2 linked regions of the Homo sapiens genome follow. The protein of the gene in region 1 purifies or fractionates together with the protein of each later gene. This does not show direct contact. Each region holds a gene or a part of one and is shown on either strand. Other genes may lie near its edges.

Evidence for each region. The genes of interacting proteins can lie anywhere in the genome.
Region 2: the proteins of ARFGEF3 (region 1) and PTH purify together in Homo sapiens (affinity purification with western blotting, with the first as the bait; one study listed by BioGRID). This does not show direct contact.

Annotation. Positions count from the first base shown.
Region 1 is NC_000006.12:138,341,961-138,346,087, reverse strand, and holds the end of ARFGEF3 (brefeldin A-inhibited guanine nucleotide-exchange protein 3), read right to left. Parts: 3' UTR 1,425-4,127; downstream 1-1,424. UniProt on the Homo sapiens protein: Participates in the regulation of systemic glucose homeostasis, where it negatively regulates insulin granule biogenesis in pancreatic islet beta cells. Also regulates glucagon granule production in pancreatic alpha cells.
Region 2 is NC_000011.10:13,493,030-13,498,114, reverse strand, and holds the start of PTH (parathyroid hormone isoform 1 preproprotein), read left to right. Parts: upstream 1-2,117; 5' UTR 2,118-2,204; intron 2,205-5,085. UniProt on the Homo sapiens protein: Parathyroid hormone elevates calcium level by dissolving the salts in bone and preventing their renal excretion. Acts by binding to its receptor, PTH1R, activating G protein-coupled receptor signaling.

The DNA.
Region 1 (4,127 bases):
AATTAACTTGCAAAACAGCATGGTATTTATAAATAGTTATTCTCCTACACATAGTACTTACTGTCGATTAGGCACTAATGTTTGCAAAACACTGCAAGATTGAGCTTTCATATTACCTTAAGACAGCCCTTTGAGGTAAGAGTGTATTTTCATTTTTCAGAGCAGGACACTTGAGCTCTAAGTAGTCAAGTGTTGTCCAGGTTTCCCACTCCCAGGAAGGGACAAAGCATGGGATGTGAACTCTGCTTTTTTAGCTGAGGCTTCACTCTCAGCTGTCTCCATCCATAAACATGGTTGGCCCCTGTATTTGTGATGTTCTTATGCAAAGTATGTTGATGCCTATCTTAGTTTTATTTCATCCTTATGATGGAAGTGATTGAGTCTTGGTGGTGTAACTGAGACTACTAGTGTGTATGCATGATAGAATCATGACTTAAGCTTATAAGCAAAAATTCAATTTCCATAGCATTTTGAATGTCTTTTACCCCAAGCTTGGCTAAACGGCAGTTTTCTATGATTTGGGCAGGGTGATACCTAGGCTGATATATTATAGACTTACAATCTTTTTTTTAAAACGTTTTCTTTTTAAATATATATATATATATATATATATATATATATATATATATATATATAATTTTTTTTTTTTTTTTTTTTTTTTTTTGATGGAGTCTTGCTCTGTCGCCCAGGCTGGAGTGCAGTGGCGCAATCTTGGCTCACTGCAAGCTCCGCCTCCCAGGTTCACACCATTCTCCTGCCTCAGCCTCCCGAGTAGCTGGGACTACAGGTGCCTGCCACCACGCCTGGCTAATTTTTTGTATTTTTTTTTAGTAGAGATGGGGTTTCACTATGTTAGCCAGGTTGGTCTTGATCTCCTGACCTTGTGATCCGCCTGCCTCAGCCTCCCAAAGTGCTTGGATTACAGGTATGAGCCACCATGCAAAAAATTTTGTTTTTAATTGACATCACTAATTACATTAATTGTACATATTTATGGGGTATAGTGTGATATTTTGATATATGTGTATTTAAAACAATAATCTAGTAAGATCAGGAAGTTAAAAGTGGCTGTATTTTTTAATATTACTTTTAAATACTAATATTCTTATTAATTGGATTTTTGGTTGTTTATGAACAAAAGGTAATACTTTAATTTTTTAAATGAATGATCTACATCAATATCTACTGACAGTAGGAATTTGATATAAGTTCTTATGAGTAAAAGATAATATCATAGAATAAGCCCTTTTTTTAAACAAGGAAATGATATATTATTTCTACAAATTTGTTTTTTAGGCATATACCAAATTGTCAATAATGACTATCTCCATGTTACAGGATTTAAAATGGGCCTTTACATTTAGACTTATGAAATGCCATGAAAAGGGGCCTAATTCTTTTGACAGAATTCTGTAAACACAGGATATTTATATATATTTATTCAGTAAACACAATTGTTTCATGTACCAGATTTTTAATGCATTTGAATCTTTATTCTACAACACAAGCAACATAAATACAATATCTTTTAAAATATTTTCTCTTTAGAATTTTCATTTCCACCTCAGATAAAATGTACACAAAATACACTTGCAAGCTTGCTTACAGAGACCTGTTAAACAAAGAACAGACAGATTCTATAAAATCAGTTATATCAACATATAAAGGAGTGTGATTTTCAGTTTGTTTTTTTAAGTAAATATGACCAAACTGACTAAATAAGAAGGCAAAACAAAAAATTATGCTTCCTTGACAAGGCCTTTGGAGTAAACAAAATGCTTCAAGGCTCCTGGTGAATGGGGTTGCAAGGATGAATTTTGCATTTTATAGGTAAAATGGTATACTGACTCAAATCATTATGGCTATAACAAGCTTCATTTATTTATAATCTTCAATGAAAATAAGTTGATTCTTTGGCATAATACTATAAGGAATAAAAGGACCCATACCACCCACTGGCTTTATCTAGAGTGGGAGATAGTAGTAGGGGAACTGTTTATAATGTAATTTGTCTAAGTTTATTCCTCTTAGAAAAGCGGGAAAAGCATATTGAATAATAGTCTCTTAGCATGATTAGGGCAATAAACATCTTATTCTTATCTGTCCCATCCCCACAACACAACACTAAGAAACAAAAATAACTTTTCCCTCTAGGCACCTCCTCCTGCCCCATCATGCCACACCTGGATATTCTATCACATTGTTTCAACTGAAGTGAAACCCAACTTATCAAAAGCATTCATCTTTGTTCAGCTTTGCCTATTTTGTGGGAAATCAATTTTTATTAGAGAGAAGCACTCCCAATAAGAACCAGATGAAAGAAATGTAGGACAAAGCAGCTTGCACATAATCCCGAGGTAGCCAGGGATGCTCACTGGGGCTGGCAGTGTCAGGGCCCGAGCCTCCCTAACTTTAAGAAAAAACATAATCTTTTACACATTGGTTCAAAAGATTGGCTTTTGGATTCCCTCCTCTCCTTTTTGGCACTGGTTGGTAAAACAAAAATAAATTACTCTTAGAGATTGACTTTTGAAATTTAATTTTAAAATCAGTGTTACTAAAAGAACTAAATGCACACATAATTTCCAAAAATTATGGGAAACTAAAGTAAAAAAAAAACCAAAAAAAAACACCCTTATTTCCATCCACAGAGGCAAAAACTCTGTAGATTGTCTCCTTGATATCATCAACATTCTGATATGCTTTCTGATCTCACTAATTCTAGTAAATATAATCATTTCCTTCCATTCCTACAATAGTCTAAACTAATTTAAATGAAGTCAGCATATTTATTAAGCAGAAGTCTTTAGAGAAACCTCATTGAATCAATAAGCATTATGTGTAATTAATACAGTTTATAAATAGGTGATGATTTTTAAGTGACTTGTTTTTTCTTAAATCATTCTCTGTATGGTCCTTAATTTTTTTTAATGGTAAAAGAATTTCCAAAACTAATTAATTCAGTAAAGAAGAGATAAACTAAGGCCCCCTCTATATGAGTTAACATGATTTCACTGAATTCCCAAAGCACACTGATTCACTTTTATATTTTTCCCATTATTTGGAAGATGAAATAATGAATATGGTCTCCACCATGTAGATATGTGCACAAACAACATATTTACTGAAAAGTCAAAAACAGGCACACCTGCTGCTTAAAAGGGAATTAGTTCATTTTGCAAATTTCCGTGAAGCCTTTGGGTAGACTCTTTACAGATATATATGAAATTAAAATGTTAATTTACGCCAGAAAATTAAATGAAAGATGAAGGTACAACAAGTAGTCTCATCTCATCTCAAATGGCTAATATTTTGGTGGCCAATGAAAGATGTAAAACAACTGGCAAGCAAACAACTATTCAAAAATCTGTAAGCCAGGAGCCAAGGCTGTAAAGGAGCTGACATGGAAACATCTCATTAAAACGACATGGATGGAAGAAATTCAAACACTACATACTTAAATTTAAAATCACCTTCAGTACAAGTCAAAGGGTCAACATGATACAAATGATCATCCATAGAATCAATGTTTCTAAATACAAAGACAAGAAGCTTAGATTTATCTCACTGTTCCATAGAACTTATACATTCATTGTCTTCTAGCTTGTAAAAACCAATTGTTGGTATAATAAAACTGGAAACTGGGAAGATTGAGCAAGACTGCTGTATAGAATCCAATCCCAAGTCATCTGCCCAAGGGTAGATTCAGTTTTTCTCTAGCGTTTGATAAGTCAGGCTGATCTTAAAGGTAGAAGTTGGAAATTTTTTCAAGGCAGTGGTTCTCAAAGCATAGTTCCCAAAACAGCAGTATTGGCCTCACCTATAAACTTGTTAGAAATACAAATTTCCTGATTTACTTAACTGGGAACTCTGACCATGAGCCCAGCAATCTGTGTCTTATTTTAAAAAAAGGCCCTCCAGGTGATGCTGATGTGTACTAAAGTTTGAGAACCACTGTTCTAAAGACAGAAGATACTAGACAACCACTGGTTAAACCTTCAGGATAGGAATTAACAGTACGAACAGTTGTTGGTGGTTGAAAAGGGTGGAAGGACCATAATTAGATGGGATTCACCAGCAGTGGAGTGCTGTTTTGTCACTAAAGTGGTCAGCCACTCTCTCCTCCC
Region 2 (5,085 bases), on another chromosome or scaffold:
GGGAGCGAGAGGTGGGAGGACTGCTTGAGCCAAGGACAGCCTGGGCAATTTAGCTACACTCTGCCTCCACAAAAATTTAAAAATTAGCTGGTTGTGGTGCTGTGTGCCTATAGCCCCCACTACTCAGAAGGCTGAGGTGGAAGGACTGCTTGAGCCCCGAAAGTTGAGGCTGCCATGTCCATACCACTGCACCACTCCAGTCTGAGTGACAGAGTGAGATCCTATCTCAAAGAAAAAAGAAAAACCATCTGTATTTCCAATTCTTCTTCTCAACAGAGTATAGCAGAAAAATGACACACAAACATCACATGTAGAGTTTGCATCAGAAGAGGTCTTTAAAAAGATCAAGACAACAGATTTTTACAGTTAAAAGAGACCTCTTGGTTATCTAGTTCAACTTTCTTCTATGTATGAATCTCTATAGTATGCCTGATAAATGCTCATCTACCTTCTACTTGAATATTCTCAGTGATGGAGAAATCACTATTTGAGAAGGTACTTGATTCCTTATTTTGACAATTATAATGTCCAAGTTAAACCCAATGAACCCAGCCCTTCCTTCTTAAACCACAGAGAATACTCCTTCTTCCTTATGGTAACCCTATAAATAATTAAACACAGCTATAAAGTCATCCCGTCTTTTTTTCCTCAGACTTTTCTAGTTTCATTCAACTACTTCTCATGTTATAGTTTTCAACATTTTCACCAAACTGATTGATATCCTCAGTGTATGTTCCCATTTGTTTCTACTGCTTCTAAAATGGAGCCTGGAGCAACACTCTAAGTGAGGTTAACCCAGAGTGGAGAATCTCCTAGGACAGGACTAGTATATATCTCTCATTATAAACTCCATACGGTTACTATTCAAATTTGTACTGGCTCTTACCTAAGGTAGAGTCAAACCTTGACAATGGCTAGTAGGAAAAAGGATGACATGAAGCCAGGATGGGACCAGAGCTGAGAGAACTGATCCCACTCTGGCACCGGATCTTTGGTGGGAAGGCAAAGCTGTCTAAAGGAGTCCTAGATATATCAAAGACATTCAGGGTGTTTTGACAGGTGGACCAGGAAAATATTGCTGGAGGAATATTTGAAGTCAGACATGTGGCAGCATCATGCCTCCAATAGGTTTTGGAGCAGGCTCTCATCATCCCTTAGGGAACATGAGAATAAAGACCTAACCCCTAGGGGAAAATGTTGCAAAGAGCTTTTGCTGTGTTTTCAGATGACTTTGCAAATTAAAGTCAAGAAGACTGGAGTTCAAAGAAGGGCTGTATTTCTAGGCAGAAACTGAGGTAGTAAGAATCTGGTGTCATAAAGACCTTTGTTGAATTCCATCTTTTCTGCTTTCCAAGCCTAAGTTTCCTCATGTAAAAATGGGGATAAGCACTTAACTTTAGTACTTTAAGTACTAACTTTAAAGGACTGCTGTGAAGATCTAGTGGGATAATATATGTAGTTAGGCATGCAGTTAGTGCTTATCAAATGTTATTATTATAGATTAAGATGCACAAATAAAATATAAGTTAAATAAATTTTAAAATAATTTCACTTTTGAAGCTTTTAAAGTAATTATGTACTAAGAGCATTTTCTCAAATTATTCTTAACACTTCCTTTAAGAAAAGGGCTATATCTGTTTTTTGAAAGATGACCAGAAGTGACATGGATTGGTTGAAAATGGCTTGTAAAGTAAGCCTAACATTTATGATTTATTACCATAAAAACTGTACCAACAGTACGGTTATAACAAATACACTTATTTTTGGGTTTTATTTTCAAGTAAGATAATGACTTTATCATAAACCTTTGAAATCAGTCTTTTTACAGTATAAATTCAGATTCATTAATCCACATAGAATTTTTCTCGATGGTATAATTCTGTATTTGTTAAAAGTCTTTGCATAAGCCCCTTGTCAAGCCAAATGCTGTTTTCCTTTTAGTATCCAATTATCTGAAACTTAAGAAGAGTGTGCACCGCCCAATGGGTGTGTGTATGTGCTGCTTTGAACCTATAGTTGAGATCCAGAGAATTGGGAGTGACATCATCTGTAACAATAAAAGAGCCTCTCTTGGTAAGCAGAAGACCTATATATAAAAGTCACCATTTAAGGGGTCTGCAGTCCAATTCATCAGTTGTCTTTAGTTTACTCAGCATCAGCTACTAACATACCTGAACGAAGATCTTGTTCTAAGACATTGTATGGTAAGTAAACTTAAAAATTCACTTCTGAATCTCATGAGATTTTGATAATCAAGTTATTATTTAATGTGTACCATTTCTACAAATACCATGTTGTTTCTTCAAGGTAAAATGCTAAGAAGTTTGAGTTATGTTTAATATAAAATGCCACATACAAAATAAATTAATGCTACTCAAATCACAAAATCCTTTTTGATTAAAGTCTTCTGAGATACCTTGCCTTTTAAAACCTCATCTGAAATTACAACAAAAAATCATTAAAATTTGGCATGCTATGCTTTAATATAATAGTATCGGTGTCAAAATTTTGAAATAAAACAGGTTGATGGTGAATGAATAGTTCTGATTTAAATAATCTTTATAAATTTATTAAGTGGAGTTAATATTCTGTTTTTCCTGCAGAGTATTCTTATCTAGATTATTTATTTTATGGCTCATAAAGAGCCCAATCTGTATACTAAAGTTGGATAAGCCCAGTTTGACTAGTAAATATTTATTTCCTTTACATAAATGACAGCTGTATTCTGAAAACAGTATTTCCTATGCTATTTCTAAATGATGCAGTTTCCCTGTAAAATAGGAGTACATAACTACTCTATGTGTATGTTAAAAGGTAGTACACTGAGCATTAAGGAAAAGCACTTCTATAATAACAGCCTTTGCAAGTACTGAAATGCAGATTAAGGCAAGAATATCCTATACTGATGTGAAACGAGGAAAGAGACAAAAGTTATATTAAAAGATAATTGTTAATAAAATAAGTTGAAGAAATAAGCTACAAACAAGCATTCCATTCAGAGATAAAGCTCGAAATCCATATCACAAGTAATTAATCAGATGATTTTTAAATGCTTTGACACATTATTTTTAATGCTAGGAGAAATGTGAATTAATTTAGTGAAAATCTCTAGATTAGCACCTATTAGTTTGGTATTTATGGTTATTACAATGCCTGAAATGAAGGTTACTTAAGAAAAGGATTTGCTACGTAAATAGTGTTAACAATTTACACTATGAAGAAAATTAGGCATTTTCAAGCAAGTTATAAACATTTAGGTATAATCAACATAAAATGCAGTGCGGGGGGATTTCTCAAAAATAGGCTCTTTCATTCCTCTTGTAGCTTAAGATTTCTGCAGTGTGACAGAAGGGAGCATGAGAAGCATGGCTCACCAGCCAGCCTCTATTGTCTATGTAATTAGAAGCTTCAGAACTCACTAATACCACTGTACCTTTCACTGGCGCATTACCCCATAAAACTTGAGATGAGGTGAGATCTGAGTATAAAGATAGGTCAGAAGTATTTTAAAGGGCTTAATTTGCCAAAAAGAAAAGTAAAAAGCTAGAGACCCTTTTTGCAGAACATTTGGTGACCACACATTTGAGGGAAGATGTGGCATTAGATGAAGCAGAAGCAAACCCTGCTCTTAGGGGCTCATCTAGGTGAGTGCACAGCCTGTGACACTACAGGGAGAGGCTCAGTAAACTGAGATCCAGCATTCTGTATGACAGAGGCATTGCTTATCACAGAGGTTCTGAATTTTAAGTAGGAAGTACATAATGAAGAGGGCTTTAAAAATTGCTAAGAAAGCGAGTCACCAGGGCTGGCAGTAGTGTAACAGGGCCATCCTGAGCTGTTAGGAGAGTAGATGCAGGGAGGGCTGGTGACCTCCGTGGGTTTATCTGTTGGAGACTCTTCTCTCCAAATCCCAGGCCTGGCTTCCAGCACCATCCAGCTGTGCCCAAGAAGCCACGCTGGTCTGTTCTCCAAGTCTTTTAAATGGTGCCTAATTTTTCTAAGTGAGCTTAGCAATGAGAAGAAAAAAAAAACATGAATTATTTTTCTGGAAAATCAAGGAGACATGGGTAACAACAGGCACTAATAAATATTTATAGATGAGTGAATGAGGAAATAATTACATAAAAAAGGTCAGTGACAATTGATAAATGACAAGGAAATATTTAATTAGGTAAAAGTAAACCATTGCTCTCTATACTAGGATAGACTTTATCTACTTCGTCTTTTCCTAAGTCAGCATGTTAATTCTGGGGGAGGATCATAAGAAAGGAAATACTTTTTTAAAAAAAATTTAAAAACATGTAACAAAGCAAGGGTAAAATATATGTATATACATAAGTGGTATGACTGTAAAACTGTACTTTCCATTAGTTATTAGCTGAGTTAAGAGAATGATCACGTTGAAGTACTGTGTGGACTAGAAATGTACTCTGTCATCATGCAATGAAATGTTGCTAACATTTTAACATAGCTCATTTATGCAGAATGAATTCTGGCAGTTTACCCCAAGTCACAGTTAGGACGGTAGATGGTGAGATCGCAGATGCGTGATTATCTAGATTCAGTGTTACATTTTTGATGTTTATCACTCAGTGGATTTTTATTAATATGCTGATTAAGTTATTTACTTGGCCAGTCATTGTGCTAAATAGTTGCTCTTTTGTGTTTCATTGCCTTGATGTTTGAGTGTAATCTAGCATTTTAATACAGTGTTTATTTTGCATGATCTTTAACAAATGTTTTAAGCAATTTTAAAAAGGCAGGATGTTATTGACATTATACATTGAAGTCTTAACATTTTAATATTTATAGTGCTTATTAGTTTGCAAAATTGTATAATTAGGAATTATTTCAGAGACAATGTTTTCTTTTTCAGGTGAGTAGTTGCCGCTTAATATCATTGGAGTACATTCTTTATACTGTTTGTGAAATTAATACTAGCATATTAAGTGTACAAATAGATTTAGAAAACAATAAAAAATTGCATTCTAAAAAAATAAATAAAAATAAATAAATAAATAAATAAATAAAACTTGCACAAGAAATCTCCAAAAGATAGTTAGGAGCATAAAACTAATTTATAAG